Regions from separate parts of the Homo sapiens genome. Here all the other regions are reported to be linked to region 1. Evidence: microRNA targets listed by miRTarBase, many of them from high-throughput screens and not tested one by one. Region 1 holds a microRNA gene; each other region holds the end of a gene's coding sequence.
The links. The annotated mature microRNA hsa-miR-331-3p reads GCCCCUGGGCCUAUCCUAGAA and lies in region 1 at 2,052-2,072, opposite strand. An mRNA with a match to its seed (bases 2 to 7 or 8) in the 3' UTR can be bound and repressed. Matches are read on the target gene's strand: a 7mer-m8 pairs with bases 2 to 8, a 7mer-A1 pairs with bases 2 to 7 and ends in A, and an 8mer does both.

Region 1 (3,080 bases):
TTTAACATAATTGACAAAAATTCCATATGATTAAATACCGAAAATAAAGTACTGTGTTAAAAAATTATAGATATTTGCACACTCATGTTTACAGCAGCATTATTCACAATAGCCAAGAGATGGAGGCAACCCAAACGTCCACCAACAGATGAATGGATAAAAAAATGTGGTAAATACATGCAGTGGAATATTATTCAGCCTTAAAATGGCAGGAAATCCTATCACATTCTACAATATGGATGAACCTTGAGGACATTATGTTAAGTGAAATATGTCAGCTACAAAAGGACAAATCCTGTATGATTCCATTTATATGAGGTATCTAAAGTAGTGAAATTCATAGAGAAAAGTAGAATGATGGTTGCCAAGGCTGTGGGGAAGGGGAAAATGGGAGTTGTTTAATGGGTATAGAGTCCCAGATTTGCAAGATGAAAAAATTCTGAAGATCTGTTTCACACCAATGTGACTGGACTTAATCTCATTGAACTATACACATAAAAATGGTTAAGATAGTAAAATTTATATGTGTTTTTAAAAATCACAATTTAAAAGATGCAAAAAAAGAGAGTACTTTGCCCATCCCCCCAAAGACTATAATCTCAAGTCTTCAGGTAGGGTAGGAAATGTACTACCCTAATATATAAAACACAATTAATCAAAAAGTAAAAATGAAAATACCTCTGAAAGAATATTCTCAAATGATATTTTTTAAAAATCACAGTTTAACACTCAACTAAGTGTCTGGATTGAATGTAGACTTCAAAAACTTACTACGTAAACAAGCTATAACTTTTTAACTCTTCACAAATTCCTATTTTCAGTGTTCATAATGAACAAGGTTTAAAAAAGTGGAAAGGCTCCCAAAATACTGAGAACATATATGTATATAAATCAAGGATGGGTTCACTCATTTCAAGCTATGTCAAGAAGTCTATGGGATGAAGCATGTCTGTTGTGATGGATATAGTACAGAACTAACTCCACGGCTGAGTTCTTCAGAGTGAGCCTCTGTAGGCTCATAGTCCTATTTTAAAGGAATAACCTATTGACCCAATTTGCTGGTGTTATAAGCTTGGAGGAATAGCACAATTTCAAGTTCCTTTCACAGGTGGAGTTTCTGATTAGTCTGTGGTTATTTGAAACATGGTCTACACCTACTGCAGAAGCCAGCATTATTAAAAGCATACATTTTCATTGTGCACCATAACTTTTGGATTTGGGGTCGTTTCATACTTTTTCAGAAATACTGTCTTCTAAATTAAACAGAAAAACATCTATGTGAATATAGCGATGCAACAGTTGTGATATGAGACCATGTGATGGATCAACTAGGTCAGAATATTTGTAAAATCCAGAGTGGCAAGGAATAAAAATAGAGAAACTTACTAAAAATCTTCTACAAAATAGTGATGTAAAATGTGACGTATTAACCAATTTCTACTGTGTCATTCTAGCTTGTTTTCATTAACCATAGCAGAACTTCTAAAAGTGAGCTCTAAAATGTGGCAAATTTGATAATAAATTAAGGAAAAAGTCATTAGTCTCCAAAAACAAGAATTGAAAATCATTTGGCACTGAAGCCAGATGGCAAAGACTAAATGCTCTTCAGAAATTATGAACAATTATTCAGTTACATGAGACTGACATAACAGTGTCAAGTAGAAAAACATTTAAGAAAACAGAAACCATTAAATTTGGGGGAGAGTTTAATTTGGAGGAAGAAGTTGATTTTGGGGTTTTTTAGGGCTAAGTTGCTTCAGCTAAAAATATAGAACTGATAATAAACAAGAATAGCTCTCTTCACTGGCAATAATATCTGTATGGAATTTCTATTGCGAGAAATTACTATAATGCCAAAGGCTGGGAAGACTTTGTTACCCAATGTCATCCCTCTAATTTTAGAAGGATTAACCAACCAATTTTTGCTAAAATGTAGGCACACATACCAAAAAATGTGAATCTTGGTGAATATAGGATGTCTGGTAGGCCTCAGGTTATCTTCAGTCTTCACACTCTTGATGTTCCAGGAATGATGCGCGAGCTTAGGTTGGTTCTAGGATAGGCCCAGGGGCCTGGTTTGATCTGGGATCCCTGGGACCATACCTAGAACAAACCCAAACAAAACCAAACTCCTTGGGAGTGCTTTCAGCTCAGGTAGACTTCTGGGCTTTTCACCCATATGGACCTCCACGACTGTACCAGGACCATATACCAACCTTTAAGGGATGGGAGTGACATTTCTGGAGCCTTCTGTACGTTGTCAGCTGATAGTACTGTGCCTGAGTAAGCATTATTTAAGTCATGGTATGAACAGAAGGTAACAGATTGGTGCAATAAAAGTGCAGAAAATACTTTGATTTAGAAATGAAGTTAATTTCCTTAAGAATTTACTTAAGGAAGGGGAAAAGGATATGCTTTGTTTAGGATATTATAAAAGAGTAAACTTATAAAAGACATGCTTTAGTTTTAGAAAAATTCTTCAATAATATTCATTTGTAGGTAGCTAAGCTTTAGGAAATGATATAAAACTGAAAAACATAAAGCCTAAAACAGTAAAATTATCCTTTAAGAAAATCTTAGGATATAAATAGGAGAGGAAATATATATATCCATAGCCATATCTCACAGAATATACTGATTTTAAAGGATAATGCAGTCAAGAGAATATGCAGCTTAAATACTGTACTATTGCAATAATATGTTGCTAAATGAAGTTCAATACATAGAGATAAAACTAATTTCATTGCTGACAAGCTAAAATACATTAAAATATATACCATAAAAAATACTATATGCACTTTAATTTATCACACATTTCATTTTCCTTCTTTTTTTTTTTTTTTTTTTTTTTGAGACAGAGTTTCACTCTTGTTGCCCAGGCTGGAGTGCATTGGCACAATCTCGGCTCACCAAAACCTCCGACTCCCAGGTTCAAGCGATTCTCCTGCCTCAGCCTCCTGAGTAGCTGGGATTACAGGCATGAACCACCATATCCGGCTAATTTTGTATTTTTAGTAGAGACGGGGTTTCTCCATGTTGGTCAGGCGGTTCTTGAACTCCCGACCTCAGGTGATCCGCCC
Region 2 (3,080 bases), not on the chromosome of region 1:
CGTGTCTCTTCCCCCCACCCCCCGGAGCTCCACATGGGCCCTCACCAGGCGGATGTCATCCTGCGGCCTCAGCAGCTGTACCATGAGGTGCAGGTGCTGCCTCTGCTCCTCCTGCTTCTGGGGACTCTGGGATCCTTGCCCGAAGTCTGTCTGGTCCCCGTGGAGCTCCTCCTCACTCGGGGCCTTCTCTGTTGGCTCAGAACTGGCCTCTGCTGCATCATCATTGTCCCCTCCATCCTGCAGTCCCAGGACAGCCCCACGGAGCACCGCAAAGCTCTGCCTGGCAGGGCAGTGGGCAACTGTCATGGCTCCTCATTCCCCTTAGGGTAGGGGCTCTCAAAGTCTAGCATGCATCACATTCACCTGCAGCCCTTGTCTACACGGATTCATGGGCCCCCACGCGGTCGATAGGTCTAGAGTGGAGGCCTGAGCATCTGCATTTCTAACCCCTCGGCCCCTTGGCAATATTGCTGAGAACCAGTCTTGGGGGCTTCCAAGCTCTCAGCCCCTCTACTCTAGCTCATCTGTGGGGAGAGGGGGCTGCTCCTTTTCCCCTCCCACCTGTTTAACTCAAGTGCTGCTGGGAACATGGTCGGGGACCCAGGAGTCCTCAGGCCCATCATGCCCTCCTGCCGTTCGGCCCGTGGCCACCACCTGAGCCAAAGCCCAGGGCAGTGGATGAGGAAGCCCCAGCTGACCAGGGGGAGGGTGAAGGCAAAGGCCGCCCTACCGCGAGCCCACCAGCCGGCCCCACCGGGAACGCTGCCCCACAAATTTGGCAGTGGGCTTCGCTGCGCGTCCTCCGGGGAGCTTTCTGTCCCTGCAGCTGGAGCCCAGGACGGCCGTGGCCAGGCCCGGGGCAGACGGAAGTGTCTGCGTGGGGGAGGTGGCGCTCACCTTCGCTGGAGTCGACTCCTTCGCTGGACCGCCTGGTCCTGCGGAGAGAGCAGCCCCAGGGCAGGGTGAGGGCGGGGAGGGCTGTCCCCTCCCCTCTCTCAGGAATTCTAGAGTTGGGGGAGGCCAGAAAAGGCGCCAGATGCCAATCGTCTTCCCACCCCAGTCCACGCCCCACCGGGAGGCCCCGTGGAGCCCCGGCCCAAGGCCAGGTCGGCTGGGTGGGCGCCGAGTGTGGCGGGGGGCGCGCTCAGATCGGGGCCTCCGCAGCCCGGGCGGCGCGCAGGGCTCTGGATTGTGCCCCGGCGCCAGTACCAGAGACCCTCGAGGCCCCCAGCGCCCTCCAGCCCGAGCCCCGGGGCCCCCTCCTCATGTCCCCGTTCGAGAGGAGCCCGCTGGCGGGCAGGACGCGCTCCCAAGCCGGGGCAGCAACTGCGTGGGCGGCACCACGGCCGGACCACACTCACCCAGGGCCCCACGGGCGTGGAGGCGCCGCTGCCCGGGGGCGAACGGCTCACTGTGACCAGGGCCATGGAGCCAGGCCGCGAGCACCTGGGCTGGCACCGGGCACGGCCCCTTCCCTCAACCCCGCGGACAGTCCTGGACCCGCAGGACCAGGAAGGACGGACGGCGCCACCCGGGCCTGGCACCTCCTCGGGGGCGGCCCTTAAAGGGCCAGACACTCGCCCAGCCGGGCCCGCGGAGCTTCTCAGGGCGGCCGGGCCCCGCCCCTCCGGTCTCCGCTGTTCGGCCCGCCCAGCCCCTGGGCACAGGTCAGGGGCGAGGCCGGGGGCGGGCGCAGGTGCGGAGCCCGGAGACCCGGAGGGCAAGAGCTGAAGGCCGGGAGTTTGGTCCCCCTCCCAGGAAGCGCCCGGCCCGGGCCGGCCCAGCGGGAGCACCTGAGCTGTTCTGGGCCTCCAGCGTCCTGTGCCCTGCAGAGGCGGGTCCTAGGGAGGCAGAGCTGAGGTGGGGAGGTGGGGGACAGGTCTAGAGAGGATCAGGCACGGCGCGCCCTCGGCCAAGGGCCCCCACCCCAAACATTTCTCCCTGCTGGTCGGCCTTCTCGTTCCCACTCCGCAGGAACCACTGGAAGACAGGCTTCCGGGGAAAACGGCCTGGGGTTTACAAATAACCCAGGAAGCCCATGAGGGGCTCTCAGGTCCACCTCGGAGGCGAGCAGGGCAGGGCTTCCAGCTACGCAGGCGGAAGTGACTTGCGCAAACCCACCCGCAGAGAACAAGCCGCAGTCAGGGCCAGGGCCTGGGCTTGGCTGCAGGGGTCGGCGTCGGGGCTCTTCCCAGCTGGAGGTGAATGGTGCCTGGGGACCCAGGCTTTTCCTCCCCAGCAGGCACGTGGGCCGGTTTCCAGAAGACTAGGCTGGGTGGCAGGACGAACCGGGTCCCCAGCAGGTGGGACAGGGCACAGGGGATCTGACTTTCACAGGACGCCTGCTTGGTAAGGACACGTGACTCTCGCCAGCTCCTTTCAGCCCTGAGGGGCGGAGGGTGGGGGGTGGTCTCCTCATTTTACAACTGAAGAAACTGAGGCTCAGATAGGCTAAGGGGACCATGACCAGGATTCAAGCCCAGGTCTGAGGCCGCCATCCACAGTGCCTCTCCACAGCGCCCCACCTTCAGGGTCCCCACCGCTCCAGCCCAGTGAGCAGAGCAGCCCTGCTGCGACAGTCTCTTTATTTCCATCTCAGTCTCCCCTGCCTGCTCATTCCTGGGGCTCCAGGCCCCAAGCTCAGCAGCAGAGAGTTTATAAATAAATAAATTACAAAAGCGGGCAGGGAGTGGCCTGGCCAGCCCTCCCGGGGCTATGGCTCAGTGCTCAGTGAGTGACAGCTGCAGGATCCGCTGTAAGTCCTCCTCCTCCTGCTGCCCGCGCCGCTCCCGCTCCTCCTGCTCCCGTGAAGACAACTCCAGGGCCAGGCGCAGCTGCTCTTCAAAGCTGGGTGGACCGGGGGCTGGGGGTGTCCTGGGAGGGGATCCTGGGCCCCTGGGCTCTGTGGACAGCTGCAGGCTTTCCTGGAGGGCCCTTCCAGGCAGGGCAGGGGAGGGAAGAACAGGCCAGTGAGCGCCAAGGCTGGGGCAGAAGCCGAGGGGCTGGGGACCGGCTTTGGAGGACAAAGGCAAAGACAGGGTGGCAAGCAGAGGAGACAAGGCAGGGCCCTGCTTCCCCAC
Region 3 (3,080 bases), not on the chromosome of region 1:
GAGGGAAGCTCCTGGTTAAAGGAGCTTGGGGAGGTGGGCAAGAGAGAACACGCCACACCCCAGAGGTATCGAACCCTGCCCCTTTCCTACCGCAAGACGCCTGACCCTACGAACTGTGCGCTCACATCATCCATCCCGTACAAGAGCCAAGCCCCTTAGCCCTCACCCATCCCTACAACATGTGAGCATCCTACTAAATATGCTACACCCTAGTCCGAAACAGGCCTGCGCCGGCCTTCAGTCACACTGCCTGCCTCCCCCCAGACTGGCCTCTGAGCCCCAAAAGCTGCTCCCCAGGCCTCTTCTGGGAACAGATTCCTTAGGCCTGTTTTTGAGAGCATCTGCTTCTGGCTTTGCGAGAGGTTTGTCTTTACAACTTCAGTTTCTGCTACCATCTTGGGGAGGGGGACATCTCCTTAGACTTGGCAGACTTCTCATTCTTACAGGGCACCCCCTTCGTTGGCGTTCTGTTAGGAAGAGACCCACAGGCAGCACCCCCCTCAGTAGTGCTTCCCTTCCTGGCACTTGGATAGGCTGGGGCGTTATGCAGATGGCAACATGGTTCTCCGCACAATCCTGAGGCCTGCCTTCTCCCTCTCCCCAGCAGGCCTGGCGTTTTCCTCCCACAATGTTTGAGATTTTGATCCTTTTAAATGTGAGGGTCATCCTGCTGGGGCCAGGATAGACAAATGGCGAAGGATTTGCATAAAGGTTGTGTGAAACTTTAGGTCATGGAATTAGAGGTCTCTTCCACAGCTTTGCAAAAATCTGGGTCACCCCTCTCTTGAGACGTGACTCCTGACGGGCCCCACAGCTGGCATCTCAGTCCTCTTACTCCAGGACAGCGCATTACTGGGGTTGGCAAGCACTTCCTTTCTGACCCAGCGCTGAGCAGAGTCCTCTCCTTTTGAAGGGGTCTCCAGGATTAGGGAGTGGGAGTCTTGTTACAGATGTTTCATTCAAGAGTTTTCTGTCTTCCACCATCTCATAGGGCAACAGTCTCTCCCCAGCCACATATGCCCAGGCCTGTGAGCAGGCTTGGCTGTTTATGAATGTGTAACTGTGTGGTGTGGGAGGTGAGATGGGCCTGGCAAGGGAGGCTTTCTCATCCTTCTGTTTCCTTCTGAAGGTTTCTGGCTAAGGAGGAGAGGGGAGCCAAGTGAGTGGAATCCATCCCATCCATCTCAAGGCTGAGATTGGGCTGGATCTCACAACCCTGGAGGGCTCCAGGTACCAGGGTGAAGAGGGTGATACGGCCTCTGCGGACTCTTCAGGGACCTGTGGCTCAGTCTGTGGGGTGTCTGGATCCCCACCAGGGAGGAGGGCTGCCTTATCCTGCGGGGCAGCCTTGCTACCAACAAAGATGAATAGCTGAAGTTTAAAATCAAGTTGCTGGCTAATCAAAGCTTTCTAAGAAATTCTGTGGCCCTGATGACTTGGAGAAGGCTGGGGAGGCCCACACGCAGGCCCTAAGTCTCTGAAGGGCTTTATTCTTTGGAGGTCGACTAGCAGCGGTTCTCCCTCTCCACTGAGGACAGAATTTGAGGAAATGAGCTGCCACTGGCGGCAGTTAGATTTCAGGAAAAACCTCCTGAAGGTGAGACCTGAGAATGTGGTGGGAGGCAACCGCCATCCCTGGAGGCCTTGCAGAGTAGAAGTCCCTGGCTGGGCAGGGAGAAAGGGTGGTCCTGCCTGGTGTGGGGAGAACCCTTGCACTCTGAGAGCTGGGACCTGCCTGCTACTTGCAGTTTCGCAAGCTTCCGGAAGCAAGAAGGGGCCTGGAGTTAGCTGGGTTCCATGTGAGCAGTTTCCCCACCTTGGTTTGCTCCCCTCAAAGCAATCTAACAGAAACTGCCCCCTGCTTCCCCCTAATTTTTGTGGTGGTTTCTCAGTATTCTTATACTGACCATGTTTCTGCACCCCAAACTTCAGCCTTTAAAAAGGCTTGCCAATTTGTTTTTTCTTCCCCATTTTGGGGTTTTGATAAGGGATTCCATAGGCCTCTTTCCCTAAAACACACAATGCATCTAACATTGTCCTCAAACCCCAAGGACCCCAGTGCAGTGAGTGGGACCTTTTCTTCCTAGTCTCTGTCTTATCTCCTCTGGGGGCTCCAGAGCTCCTGGTCACTTATTTTTCTCCTATTTTCTTCCTTTTCAGTTCCACCCAGTTCCCACACCACTCCCCCAGCTGAGCATCTTCCTCCATGAGAACTGTCCAGGGCTGCTGGGAGAGAACATTGTGGAACAGTGAGGGAGAGGTGTTTTCTGCATCATCTGAGGGTCGTTACTCCCGGGTCAGTGCCATTGCGGTACTTCCCCGACCCTATAGGATTTTCCTAAGGATTTTGATACAATTTTATAGGGTTGTTCAGAGACATATTGGGACCTCTTCCTACAATTAATAGGGCTTTTATCCACTATGGTTTATAGGGTTTTTCTGCTACAGACTTAAAGGGCTTTTTTTTTTCCTACATATTTATAGGGTTTCTAACCCAACAGTTTTTCTCTACTGCCTTATAAGTGCTTCCCACCAACAATTTTATAGGGTTTCTCATCACTGATGTAAAAGCACTATTTTTTCCCAGGGTTCTTTCTCCTCCACTCCACTACCATCTGATAGGGTTATCCTCCCTTCCCCATGTAATTTTTTTGGGGGAAAAAATCCAGTGTTCCTCTCTGGAGAGAGCGAGGCCCCTGGTCTCCAGACCCATTTCACAGGGAGACACCTGGGTGGCAGCTCCTATGGAGCAGGAGGGCTGCGACTTCTGTGAAGCCGGCTCCACACTCGGGGCACAGATAGGGCTTTTCTTCCACTAGGGTTTTGGGGTTTTGCCCTTCCCCATGGCTGCTGCTCTCTGTGGGGGTAGGGGTCTCGCCCTCACCTTCCTGATCTGTGGACAGGGTGACTGCCTCTGGAGGGGGGTCCTCGGGATTGGGGGGTTTTTCCTGGGTGTGGGTTTCTTGGTGCCGGGTGAGGGCCACGCGGTCGAGGAAGGAGGCCCTGCAATCTGAGCAGCGGTAGGGTCTGGCCCCCAGGGGGCTCCTGAGATGCTCCAGGAGGACGGAAGAGCTCTTCCC
Region 4 (3,080 bases), not on the chromosome of region 1:
ATGAAAACCTTGACCCAGGGTCAGCTGATGATAAGAGTGCGGCAAGGCCTCACCCCTTACCACTCAGTTTAGAGTACGGCAGAGGGGCATCTTGAACCTGGGCTGTGACACTAATGGCTCACCCTTAGTGAGCTGAAGTCCCAGAGAATGAGCTGCACATTTCATATATGTTACAAATTTAATCTTCCATCTTTCACATTCGTCTATCTTCCCACTCTCAAGTATCCCCGGTGCCCCCGACATTTCTTCACTACCAAAGCCAAGGACACAGGAAGCCACAGACTAAGGAGTTCACAAGAAACTGATCTTTACTCAACAAAGTTCTACACAAGTGGAATCTCACGCCACCTCGGCGCCAATCCCCAGCACAGCACAGTAACAAATGGACAGACCCGGGAGCCCGCAGGGGGAAGAGGGTGAGGAGGGAAAGAGGGACTGTGGCTCAAGGCCAGTCTGGGTCCACAGCCCTGGGTAGGGGAGAAGGTTGAGAAGCTGAAACTTCATTGTGCAAAAAACAACCAAAAATAAATTAAAAAATTAAATAGTTTTTTTTTAAAAAAAAAAAAAAAAAGGAAAACGAGAAGAACCAGGCTCCCCTTCCCTGAAGGTGTTTGTATCCCCCCATCTTGAGTAGCGAGGGGTTACCAATCCCATCAGACAGCCAATCCATCCACACACCCCAAGACCCAGCAGAGGATGCTTCAAAGAACTGGAATTACCAGAAAATTAAAAGGTATTTTTAAAACTTTTTTTTTTTTTTTTAACAAATGGCTTCCAGAGACCTGCTCGAGTTTCATGGGGTGGGCGTGCAGGGACACCCAGCTAATTTATGGAATGTGTACTGAGTGCCCCTTGGAATAGATGCAGGGCCTGACCCTGACTATGGAAAGACACAGGGCTTGGATGGAGGGTCTGGCGCCCAGGAGGGATGGATGGAGCAGGCCCCAGGATGCGAGACTCCAGTCAGACTCCAAAACACAAGGGGCTCCCCAAAGAAGTAGAAAGCAGGGAAGGAAAAAAAGGGAAAAAATGCTAAGGGGGTCTGCAAGGCCCAGTTTTCTGGCCAACTGGGAAGTAACTACACCCCCACCCTCTCTAGGGGAGCCCCTTCCACCTTGACCATGTTCCCAGACTATTCCGGAAGGTTCTCTAGAATTGCTGACCCAGTCTAGTAGGATCTCTGGGCTCACTGGGTACTATGATGAGCAGGAAGTCCCAGGGAGATGGAATAGGGAACAGGGGACACACCACCTTTCCCTTCCACCAAGCCTTGGTTTTCCTTTTTGCTGGCAAAAACCTGTGTCCTCTGTCATCATCAATTAAACGCCCCTGCCCCAGGCCTTGAGTTAAAACTGGGGCCTGAAACGTGAGAAGGGGGTTTCAGAAGCACAGAGAAACGGACTGCCCCTGAAGCTGCTTACAGAGAGAGATGCTCGGGGTAGGTGCCAGTAGCTCTGGCTACACCCAGCTCTCTTCAGGAAAAAGGTCCCAACCCAGTGTCTTCAAAAGCCACTGGAGCACACAGGAAGGAGAAACGGTGACCTCTGGCCAGCCCCAGCCACTCCAGTGGTTCTCACCCTGCGAGCTAGGCTAGGATAAGGACGGAGACACCACCAGCTGAGGCTGCAACAAAGCTGGCAGGGAGTGTGTGGAGTGGGTCCCAAGCATGTGCGTGCTGACAGGGCGACTCCCAAGGTCACCATCCTCCTCCCCCCGCCCCGAGATCCCGCCTGAGGCCCCCCACCCACCCAGCCCTCCCCAGTCACCGCCAATTCCGGCAAAACAGCAGAAGCTTCTTAAACTCTAGATGCAGGTTACACGGAAGGCCTTACGGGTTAACTCAGGGGTTCACTAATTCTACTGTCTCCATGCAGTCGGGGAAATGGTGGAGCGGCTGGCCCAGCCTCGCCGGTTATGGCACCCGCACATGCGTGTGGCCATGTGTGTCCGTGTGAGTGTACGCGTCCCTACGAGGGCCCCCCTCCTGACCTGCTCCTCCCTCACCTCATCCGAAGCCGGATTCGGTCAGCTGTGTAATTCCTCCCTCCCACGTAGCTGGCCCAAGTGGGCTGCCAGAGATGACCCTATTAGAGCCCAGGGGCCCTTGCCCACCAGAAGTCCCCCCCACCTCCCCGTTTGTAGGATGAGCATGGTGGCCCCACCCACCTGCCAGGAGGGCAAGTGGACGGATGGACGGACGGACGGACGGACGGGGAAGGCATCTGGATTTGAGTCCCACTCACTCCTCCCTAACCCCCCTCAACCAGGGCACAGCGACTTCCGGATGCAGCGCACTCCCCAGTAATCCCTCCGACGACGACGCAGACAGAAACCTGCAGGGGGAGGAGGAAGGTCATGGCCTGGGACCTTTCGGCCCCCAAGACAGTGCTGACTTGCCAGCTGCAGTCTCCTTACCTGGCAGTCTCCATGATCACCTAGACCCCATAGAAAGCCGCCAGCCTCTCCTTGAGCAGCGGCGGGAATTGCTCAGAGAACTGCTGCCAGTTATCTTCCCCAACTTGGTCTTTGAAGCCGTGGAGAATCTGTGGGGAGGGTGGTGGTGAGGGGTAGGCAGGGGCAGAACAAGGGGAGTGCGCCTCTTCCCCCATCCCCAGGCCCCATTGTTACCAGATGGTCTCACCCCTGCCTGCTCCCGGAACTAGATCAGGGCCCAGACAGAGCCTCACCTTATAAAACATGTCCCGAAGGTCATCCTTCGGGCTCACCCAGGAGGCTACAGCATCGCAGAAGAAAATAAAGTCCTGAAACGTGACGGATCCCAGGTGAGGGGCCGCCCGAGCCCAGCGCCCGCGCCTGCCCTCAGAGCCCAGCTGCCCCAACCTGCACAACGCCCCCCGGGTTGACACCGATCATCATGCAGATGCCGCGGAAGGCTGAGTCCTTCTCCTCGTTGTCCCTGATGTTCCTGAGGGACGTGCACCTGTGGGAAGGTGAGCAGCTGGAGGTCAGAGGGCAGGCTGGGCATGCATCTGTGGAGGGCTGGGTCACTGGGGATCAGTGAGTGGGCCTGGGACATGCATCTGTGGGGGTGGGGCAGGGCAGGGAGTCAGTAGGCAGAT
Region 5 (3,080 bases), not on the chromosome of region 1:
AGGCTGACCGTACTGGGGGCCCGGCTAACCTCTGCCTCCTTTCCTTCTACCTTCCCAGGGTAATGATGCGGAAGAGCCTAAGGGGGTCACCAGCGAAGGTAGTAGTCCCCGCCCCTGCCCGCCCTCTCCTTTCCCCAGGGCTCTGGCCTCAGGGCCTACCCTCACCCTCTCCCCTTCCTCTAGAATTTGACAAATTCCTGGAAGAACGGGCCAAAGCCGCGGACCGATTGCCCAACCTCTCCAGCCCCTCAGCTGAGGGGCCCCCGGGTCCCCCATCTGGCCCAGCGCCCCGGAAGAAGACCCAGGAGAAAGATGATGACATGCTGTTTGCCTTATGAGTGTGGGGTCTGGCACCCTGCAGCCCAGGTCCCCACTGCTCTCACACCCTTAGGCTGGGACCTCCCTCCCTCCTCTGGTGTTAAGGCTGCTTTGGGGGTGGCTTGTTACCCCCTTTTCCTCCTCTTTGAAGACGGAGCTGCCCCAGCTGTGGCTGGGGGTGTGGAGGCAGTGGGATGAACTGGGGGACAGGTCTGCGCTGCAGTGGGATCTGGCTGCTCTGCCTCCTTTCCCACCCCAGCTGACCATGAGACTTTGCTGAGAAGTGGAGGCCCCAGGACAGGCTGGCTGGCTGGCTGGCTGCTTGACCCAGTGTGACTCTCCTTCACTGAGTGATACCCTGCTCCGGGCCCATGCCCCAAGGAGCCCTTCAGAGCCCACACTGCCAGTCGAGGCCTGGCTGGAGGCTGGCCACAGTGGAAATTCTGCCGAGCCTCTTGTCCCTTCCCTGCTCTGCTGCATGGGGCCCCATGGCTTTGGCTGGCCACTGAGGGTAGGGTGTGGAGGTGTGGAGGCCCCCTGAGGAGCTGCGGCGGCCCAGGTACGAAGCTGCAACTCTGCGCGCAGTGGGCGAGATCTCATCAGCCCCAGGCTGCAGGTGAGGCTTCAGGGGATGCTGGGGCCCCACTGCCCCTCCGCTGCCTTGCCCTCCATCCTTCCTCTGTTCCTTCTGGCCGGGCACCACAGCACTGGGGCTCACCTCTTGGTTGATCCTCTTGTACTGGGAGAGGTGCCTTTTGTATCCCCAATTAAAGGTAGAAAACCACCCTGCTAGCAGCATTGTCAAGTCTCCTGGTCAGAAATGACTTCTTGGCCTCACAGAGGCAGCGACTACTTTGGGCAGGGCTGGGGGCCATCCGAGAGGTGAGCATCTGTAGATGGTGCAGGCGGAAGGACAGGAGCAAACACCCAGCTACACTACGCAGGTGCCGCCTCCTCCCACCTCACATGGCAGGCTCCAGCCACCGCCCCTGCCCGGAGGATGCATGCCCTCCCCAGCTGACACCCCTCCCTCCTCAAGGCACCTTCGTGCTGCTGTTCCATGAGGCCAGCTCCTGCCCTGCACAGAGCACACTAATCACAAGGGCGGGGACCTGTGTGGACTGTGTGCGCATGTGGGGTGCACAGGCCACAGGAGGATGCTGGCCTTCCGAGGCTGGGTGCCAGGCACAGCCTGGGGCTACGCACTGGCTCGTAGCATCACAACAGCCTGGGAGAAGCAAAGTGAGCGTCCTCGATGTATAGATGCGGAGACTAGGACTCCATGAGCCGCCCAGCTCAGAGGAGGAAGCTCATGCAGTTGTCATGTGCCAGCATTTCCTCATGCAGAAGCGCATCCTCCCCATTTTCCAGGCACCAAAGCTAAGTTGGGAAGACATGGCACACAGTTCCAGACGCTGGGCCCCAGGTCAGGTGCAGGGGGTCAGCTCTTCCCTCCATGGCAGCTCAAGAGCCCCAGGTCTTAGGGTGCCACCTTTTCAGGTGTGGGATCTCTAGGCCAGACTCCCTGGGAGTCACTGCTGAGGCATGTTGGAGCCTCCTGGCCCAGGACACGGTCGGGGAACGGTGTGAGGCCAAAGCAATTGGGTCCACAGGGTCCTGGGCTCCTGGGAGAGGGCCGAGGTCTGTGTGAGCAGCCACTGATTCCCATGGGCAGTGGGCAGGCAGCACCTGCCATCTGAGGTATGGTCTGGAGCTGGGCATACAGGAGACCAGGCCCAGCCCAGCCCTCAAGATGGAGTTGGGGCAAGGAAAGCAGCTGGGGGCAGGCACACTGGTGCCAGGCAGGGGAGGGGGAGGCCCTGCCGCCATCAGGATGCTCATGGTCCAGGCCAAGCTCCCTCTGCCACATCCAGGGCATCTGTGAGCTCCTGCCAGGTGCCCTACCCTGGCCCAGCCCTTTCAGTACCTCACAACAGCCCCAGGGGGTCAATGGTGTTGGCCACCAGTTACAAATGGGGAAACTGAGGCTGAGGGAGGAAGGGACTTGCCTGGTCATACACTAAGTAATGGAAGACTGGGACCCCCAACCTTCCTCACTGCTGCCTCACCTGCCTGCCCCACCCACACCCCACTGCCTGCTTCCCTCATTCTCTCCCTACTTAACTGGGGACCTCTTAGAGGGGAGTTGTGATTTTACAAGGATCAAAGCCAAGGCCTCCTCTCCCCTGTGTTAGCTGGGAAACCCAAGGAAACTTCCACAGAAGGCCCCCAGGGCTGGGAGGGCCTCAGGTGCTAAGGGTGAAAACTGCCAGGTTGTTCATTCCTCCCTGTGGGTGCATCCCCTGGGAGCCAGCTGCACACAGCATAGCGCTAGGTGCCCGCCAGACAGAAGTGAAGCGGCCAGGTGCCAGCCCTGTGGGGTCACGTGGGAGGGAAAGGGACGAGAAAGACAGACATAAACTCAATCATTGTTTCACGCTGTGAAAAGAAGAAGATGGGACGGGACGCCCAGGGCCAGGAGGCTCTCTGTGAGGACGGCCTAAGGCTGCTGAGGTAAGATGGGGTGGGCTGGGCCATGAAGGGCCTTGAATGCCAGGCAGGAGGTGGCCCCTGCAGAGGTCTCGGCTTGGCTGGCTGGAACAGTTCCAGGCTGCCTGAAGGCCTCCTTCAGAGAGAAGGCTGCTGGGGCTGCATGGGGGCTGGGGGGGGGGGCGCTGGCGGGAATTCATCAGTGCAGTCAGGCTGGGTTCCCTGGCAGCAGGCTCTGTCTGAGGCTGCAGGCCTGGGCGGGATCACTTTAC
Region 6 (3,080 bases), not on the chromosome of region 1:
CACCCTGGAAGCTCTACATTCCCTTTGCCAACAGGATCTCACTTCCTGGTTCCCATTTTCAGGTCCTGTTCTTCCCTACCTGCAACAGCTTCATTTATAGCCTGCTCAAAGAGATTTTCCCTATGAATGTTAAAATGATGCAAGCAGCCTATATTACTACTGAAACCTAATAGAGTCCCAAACTGAACTGTCCCTTCAGGAATATAGACCTGGTTTCCTCAAGAACTTGGCCAAGGGTTCATCCTGACCAGAAGCCATACAGGCTTCTAGCCATCTGTGTGCTTGCCCTCTTATTGAGGCCCTCCACGGTACTTCTACATCTCTAGGTATTTGAGGCCATATCTGAGGAGTCTGATGGGTCTGGGCACACATGCTTTGCACAAGTCCTCTCAAGGGTTGGCCCAGCTACAGGTTATAGACAAAACTAAAAACATCCCACTTTTCTAGTTCAAAAACTTGACATTGCTGGTCCCTGTTTTTACCTTCCCTGGCCCACCAAGAGTATGTCTCTACATACAACTCAGTAGCTGCATGTTGTTTTTTGTTAGATAAGGTGAAGGCAGACTAAGAATGGAGAGAAGATATATCAAAGGGTCCATCTTTATGTCTTGAGCTTGAATAAGCTTTTCCTTTCATGGGACTTCTGTGCAGAATAACCCCTATTCCTCCACCTTGTTCACTTTTTCCTGTATAGCACAGTTCTTCCAAGGCAGAGGTTTGAGACCAGACCAGCAATGATGATCCTCTAAAAAGACAAACACTGTGCCATGCTTACACATCTCTCCATTTCCACTTCAAAGTCTCTCAGCACTTAAAGCTGAAGAGATCTTGCTGCAAACTGGGTACTAGCAAAGAGAAGTGTTTTGAACTCTTCTCAAGCAATAGAACTTCAGATTAATATAATCGTTTCTCACTTGTTTCAACAAAGATGAGAGCTTGGCGATGCCATTTTGGCTCCTGCCTTCTCTTGGCTTATCAAGTTCTGGGTGGCAGTGCTCATCCCTTACCCTCATTCTGAAACCCTGGCCAACCATCCAGCCCTCAGGATGAGCCTCAGCAGCATCTATGAGCTCACATGTAGCCTGGTCTCTCCAGCTTTGAGGAAATTTGTATGTCTGTGTGCACATCCTCTTCCCCATGACTATCAAGATATGATAGGATATGGTGAGGTAGGGGGGTTGGGGAGGGGCAAGGAAGTACTTCCCTCCCCAGAAGCAACTCAGTAGCTGACAAAGGTAGTGAAGAATTCTGTTTGATGAGTCTCTCCTCCCATCAATCCAAGCTGGAAATGCCTGTGTGGCTTATTTGTCATTGTTTGGTGATGCACAATTATACTCTTGCCACTAGCCATCTTTCTGCTACTAGCCAGTAGCATCTTTCTGAAGTGTCTTAAAGTACAGTTTCCCCCGACTGACCTCATAGCAAAGCCCTTGCGTTAAGTCTCAGGAGTCCATCTGGGTCAATGAGTGCAGCCTCCACGCTAAGCTGCTCCAGGCTTTAGAGTTTGGAGGACAGGATTATAGGCAATCTTTCTTAGACAAGGCCAAAGATGGCTTTGGGGATCTCAAAAGAGGGTGGGAACCTTGGGCTTGAGCAACAAAATAATATCTAGGATATTATTTAGTGAAGGACAGTTGGGCCAGAGGCAACAAGCCACAAGCCATGGTTGGCTCTGTCGACTTTATGGTAACAATGTCTCCATCCCTAGAGGCATCCAGTCCAGGCATGGCTGCCCCCACAGTGCAGAGCTGGTGACATTTCCTTAAAGATGATAACCAAAAAGCTGGTTTTAAAACATAAAGGAACAATCCCAACTAATCCTCAGGTTACACCTAAGGGTAAGGTAAAGGCCATTTTTAGGCTTCCGAAATCTGAACTATTTCAATGGCATTACTGGAGGAGGCTAAGTCTGAAACGCCCTGTGAAGGCCTATGGAAGTAACTGTTGATTTATGTCCTGAACCAAGTGCTCTGACTGTAAGTGAAGGAAATGAGATGAACAGGGAAGGGATTGGGTCTCTGATTCCATGAAAACTGGCTTTCAAGATCCAGAAAAACTCTTCGAGTTGAGACTCAACACTCCTAGAGCTGGGGCAATATGCAGTTAAACATGGGATCCAATTATTACTGCTGTCTACTTAGCTGTATCCTGCCCTAGAAAAAATTGCAATAAAAGCCTGGGGTTAGATCAGGCTAAAGAAACCGCCATTCTTGGGGGATTGGAATGAAGCTGTCATCTTGCCATATGCCATGCTTGTTCACAAGCCAGTGAAAGTCAGCAGACTGAGGAGATGACCCTCCAGAGCTGCCCTTAGTGTACTAAATAGTAATGTTTGCCATGCCCTTTCCTTGTATTGAGAAGAATCAGCCTCATCTATGTGGTGAATGGGCATCCAAGAGTGAACAGGACATATTTTAGTATCCTTTTGCTTACTCACTCTACCTCCCAGCGCCAGATACCCACTTTTTATGGTTCCTAAGCCCCAGACCTAAGCTTTAGAGCCATGGATGAAAGGTGGTTCATCACTGTGGAATTGATGATACCACCATCTCTAAGATAACACAGATAGTGTAGTAATAACTTCCCCTGAGTCCCAGCCTAGCAACATCTCATGTACTTGCTTATTCTTGTGCCTCTTTTACTATAGGGAAATGTTATGTGAATACTGCACAGGGGTTAATAAAAAAATACATATGCTCTCTTTGAAGAAGAATGCACAAATGCAGGGTCAGCTGGGGCTGGACCCCAGACTGACACAGAGGCTGCAGCAGGTCGCCTCTGTGGGTCCGGGGTCACCCTTCATGAGTGGTGGCTGCTGATGAGTCCTCGGAGCTGCTTGGCCACGGTGTCAATGAGTTTCTGCTTGTCTCGCTCATTTTTCCGAAACTGTGCAAACATGTTGTTCTTGCGGCTAGTATCCTTCATCCTAAACAGAGAAGGAAAGAAAGAGGGCAACATGTTTGAGGAAACAATGGTGGAAGGAGAACCTGCAGGAAGCAGGATGGCAATGCATCTTAACCACTACCCAGAGTAATGAGAGAGTCCAGAATATCTCCACTGTCAGGCCCACACTCACCTAC
Region 7 (3,080 bases), not on the chromosome of region 1:
CCTCCACTAAAGTCTGGAACCCTACAAAGACATCCATTGAGAGTTGGAATCAACTTCATCCAATCTCTTGTTAATGCTGATATTCTGACCTCCTCCAATGAATCACGAATATTCTTAATGGCACCTGGAATGGTGAATCCTTCTAATTGAATCCTTTCCAGAATATTTTCAATTTACTTTGCCCTGATCCATCAGAGGAATCACTATCTATGGCAACTATAGCCATACAAAATGTATTTCTTAATAAGACTTGAAAGTCAGAATTATTCCTTGATCCATGGAGTAATTCTGCATGGAGCTGCAGAATAGATGTTAACAGGCATAAAAACATTAATCTCCTTGTACATCTCCACCAGAGCTCTTGGGTGACCAGGAGCCTTGTCAATAAGCAGTAACGTTTTGAAAGAAATTTTTTGAGCAGGTCTCAACAGTGGGCCTAAAATATTCAGCAAACCATGCTGTACACAGATATACTATCATACTGACTTTGTTGTTCCATTTACAGAGCACAGAGTAGACTTAGCAATAATTCTTAAGGGCCTTAGGTTTTTCAGAATGGCAAATGAGCATTCTCTTCAACATAGTCACTAGCTGCATCAATCTCTAACATTAAGAGTCCGCCTGCCCTTTTAAGCCAGGCATTGATTTCTCCTCTCTAGCTATTAAAGATTTAGATGGCATCTTCTTCCAATAGAAGGCTGTTTTGTCTACACACTGAAAATCTGATATTTAATGTAGCCACTTTCAAATCAATGACCTTAGCTAGATCTTCTGAATAACTTGCTGCAGCTTCTATATTAGCACTTGCTACCTCACCTTCTATTTTTATGTTATAGAGAAGGTTTCTTTCCTTAAACCTCATGAATCAACCCCTGCTAGCTTCAACCTTTTCTGAAGCTTCCTCACTTCTCTCAGCCTTCATGTAATTGAAGAGAGTTAGGGTCTTACTCTGAATTAGGCTTTGGCTTAAGGGAATTTTATGGCTAGTTTCATTTATCCAGACCACTAAAACTTTCTCCATATCAGTAATAAAGCTGTTTCACTTTCTTATCATTGGGTGTTCACTGGAGTAGCACTTTTAATTTCCTTCAAGAACTTTCCTGTTGCATTCACAACTTTGCTGTATGGCACAAGAAGCGTAGATTTGGGCCTAAGTTTTCGACATGCCTTGCTCACTAAGCCTAATCATTTCTAGCTTTTCACTTAAAGTGAGAGACATGACTCTTCCTTTCACTTCAACACTTAAAGTCCACTGCAAGGTTATAAGCTGGGGCCTAATTTCAATATTGTTGTGTCTCTAGGAAGAGGGAGGTCTGAGGAGGAGAGAGACAGGAACCACTGGTCAGTGGAGCAATCAGAACATACATAATATTTATCAATTAAGTTCTCTGTCTTATTAGGGCACAGTTCATGGCATTCCAAAGCAATTACAATAGTAACAACAATCACTGGCCACAGATCACCACAACAGATTTAATAATAGTGAAAAACTATGAAATACTCCAAGAATTATCACAATATACGAGACATGAAAGGAGAAGTTTTATTGGAAACATGGCACCAATAGACTGGCTCAACGCAGAGTTGCCATAAACCTTCCATTTGTAAAAAATGCATTATTTGCAAAGTGCAATAAAGCAAAACGCAATAAGATGACATATGCCTGTATCTGTATCAATAGGAGGAACATTGCCATTTTCTTCTACATGACATAAAATTGTACTAAAAGGCACTAGTATGTGCCTTTCTGGGTGGCAGGCCTCCACTCTCATGATGTTTTAACAAAGCAAAGTAGATATACTTACGGATTCAAATTTTGACTACTGAATAACTCATTTCAAAAAGAAAATTCAGCTCAATAAAATTCAGTATCTGTCTAAAACTATTTGTCAGGGTAATAAGTTCATGGGAGGTCCAAAGACAAAGTATGTAGTCCTATTCTATACTAAAGTAAACCTGGATTGAGATTTATAATAAAAATCACAACACAACAGTATTACTTGGTAAAGTCCTCAAAGTAGATTTTATTTATACATTTCTTCAAATGATTGTGGTATTTTAAAAAATCTCTCCCAAATTTGATGACATAGGGACAGTGGTGAGAACAAAGTATCCCTAAAGGAAACAAATATCGATTGGTGCTTTCCTAGCTCACTGAGCTAACACTCAGAAGCCAATTTATTCTATAATCCTAAAGAACCTTAAATGTGGGTTTGTTTGAATTGGCCTTCTGAGAATCATTGAAATAAAGGAAATATTACGGAAAAGAGATTAGTTTCCAAAAATGTGCTGTCTTTGAAAATAAGTCTTCAGACATGTGTGTCGGAAAAGATCTGCAAAGCTTGGTACAGTGTTAATGTGTAAAGAGAACCAATCACCTCCATGGACTTTAAAACTCAAAATTATCTATGAAATACTTTAAATGACATGGCATTACCAACATTCTTTAAAGCATTTCATTTAAAAGAAAAATGTAAGACTGTTCTCACCCTTTTGAAAAGACCTAATCCCTTTCTAAACCAAAAGTATAATTTGCAAGAGAAACAACATTACAATTCACTGGTAAATTAAGATTTCTGAAGTTGTAAGAAATGGGGCCAAAACAAGTCACGCTCAAAAAGGGATGGTTAACACAAGAAATGTGCTATGAGTAAAGTGCATGAAAGAAAGCCTGCTCAGCTAAATGAAGTAGACAAAGATCAGAAGTCAAGGGTCATTCGCCAGAGCGGCAGCAGGCTCGAAAACCACACTGCAAATTCTGGCATCCACTGGCGGTATCAGCATGAGGACCTGTATGAAAACAGAAAAATGTGAAAGGAGGAATTTCTTAGAGATCACATAAAAATAATTTTGCTTATGAAGGAGTTAAACATTCATTGGTTTTACTAGCAGTACTTATATGATAGAAGTAAATCTCATGATAAGTGTATAAGAAATTATTCAGACACAAAACTCAATAGCAGCTTGACTTTAATTAATATATCCTTCATGGTCCAAAAGGTAAGTGGAAGAAGGGAAAAAAATAATTTTTAGCAACAACTTACAATATAAAAATCCAAAATGGAAATGAGACAATCCAC

Region 2: miRTarBase lists ANKRD13D as a target of hsa-miR-331-3p. Seed matches in the 3' UTR shown: 7mer-A1 at 2,602-2,608.
Region 3: miRTarBase lists ZNF629 as a target of hsa-miR-331-3p. Seed matches in the 3' UTR shown: 7mer-m8 at 2,694-2,700.
Region 4: miRTarBase lists TNPO2 as a target of hsa-miR-331-3p. The part of its 3' UTR that is shown has no 7-base or 8-base seed match.
Region 5: miRTarBase lists TOM1 as a target of hsa-miR-331-3p. Seed matches in the 3' UTR shown: 7mer-A1 at 944-950.
Region 6: the mRNA of EXOC6B is a reported target of hsa-miR-331-3p. Seed matches in the 3' UTR shown: 7mer-A1 at 2,583-2,589.
Region 7: the mRNA of FBXL5 is a reported target of hsa-miR-331-3p. The part of its 3' UTR that is shown has no 7-base or 8-base seed match.

Annotation. Positions count from the first base shown.
Region 1 is chr12:95,307,472-95,310,551 of GRCh38, reverse strand. MIR331 (microRNA 331) reads right to left here and starts at 2,132; the gene lies at 2,039-2,132. MIR3685 (microRNA 3685) reads right to left here and starts at 629; the gene lies at 568-629.
Region 2 is chr11:67,301,973-67,305,052 of GRCh38, reverse strand. It overlaps ANKRD13D (ankyrin repeat domain 13D), which reads right to left. Exons shown (of 15, transcript NM_207354.3): 15 at 2,569-2,934. The coding sequence ends at 2,721. SSH3 (slingshot protein phosphatase 3) reads right to left here and starts at 1,523. Exons shown (of 14, transcript NM_017857.4): 1 at 1,362-1,523; 2 at 898-935; 3 at 46-280. The coding sequence starts at 1,427. RefSeq lists enhancers at 1,336-1,855, 1,856-2,373.
Region 3 is chr16:30,779,004-30,782,083 of GRCh38, forward strand. It overlaps ZNF629 (zinc finger protein 629), which reads right to left. Exons shown (of 3, transcript NM_001080417.3): 3 at 1-3,080. The coding sequence ends at 2,715. Among named protein-coding and RNA genes, the nearest start is that of ZNF629, 6.7 kb to the right of the region's middle.
Region 4 is chr19:12,698,911-12,701,990 of GRCh38, forward strand. It overlaps TNPO2 (transportin 2), which reads right to left. Exons shown (of 26, transcript NM_001382241.1): 23 at 2,842-2,941; 24 at 2,688-2,762; 25 at 2,416-2,543; 26 at 291-2,333. The coding sequence ends at 2,436. Among named protein-coding and RNA genes, the nearest start is that of SNORD135, 3.2 kb to the right of the region's middle. RefSeq lists enhancers at 2,228-3,080, 2,705-3,080.
Region 5 is chr22:35,346,872-35,349,951 of GRCh38, forward strand. TOM1 (target of myb1 membrane trafficking protein) reads left to right here. Exons shown (of 15, transcript NM_005488.3): 14 at 59-98; 15 at 184-1,102. The coding sequence ends at 338. Among named protein-coding and RNA genes, the nearest start is that of MIR6069, 12 kb to the left of the region's middle. RefSeq lists enhancers at 2,446-2,978, 2,979-3,080.
Region 6 is chr2:72,176,536-72,179,615 of GRCh38, forward strand. It overlaps EXOC6B (exocyst complex component 6B), which reads right to left. Exons shown (of 22, transcript NM_015189.3): 22 at 1-2,926. The coding sequence ends at 2,800. Among named protein-coding and RNA genes, the nearest start is that of CYP26B1, 30 kb to the left of the region's middle.
Region 7 is chr4:15,603,010-15,606,089 of GRCh38, forward strand. It overlaps FBXL5 (F-box and leucine rich repeat protein 5), which reads right to left. Exons shown (of 11, transcript NM_012161.4): 11 at 1,372-2,790. The coding sequence ends at 2,714. Among named protein-coding and RNA genes, the nearest start is that of FBXL5, 51 kb to the right of the region's middle.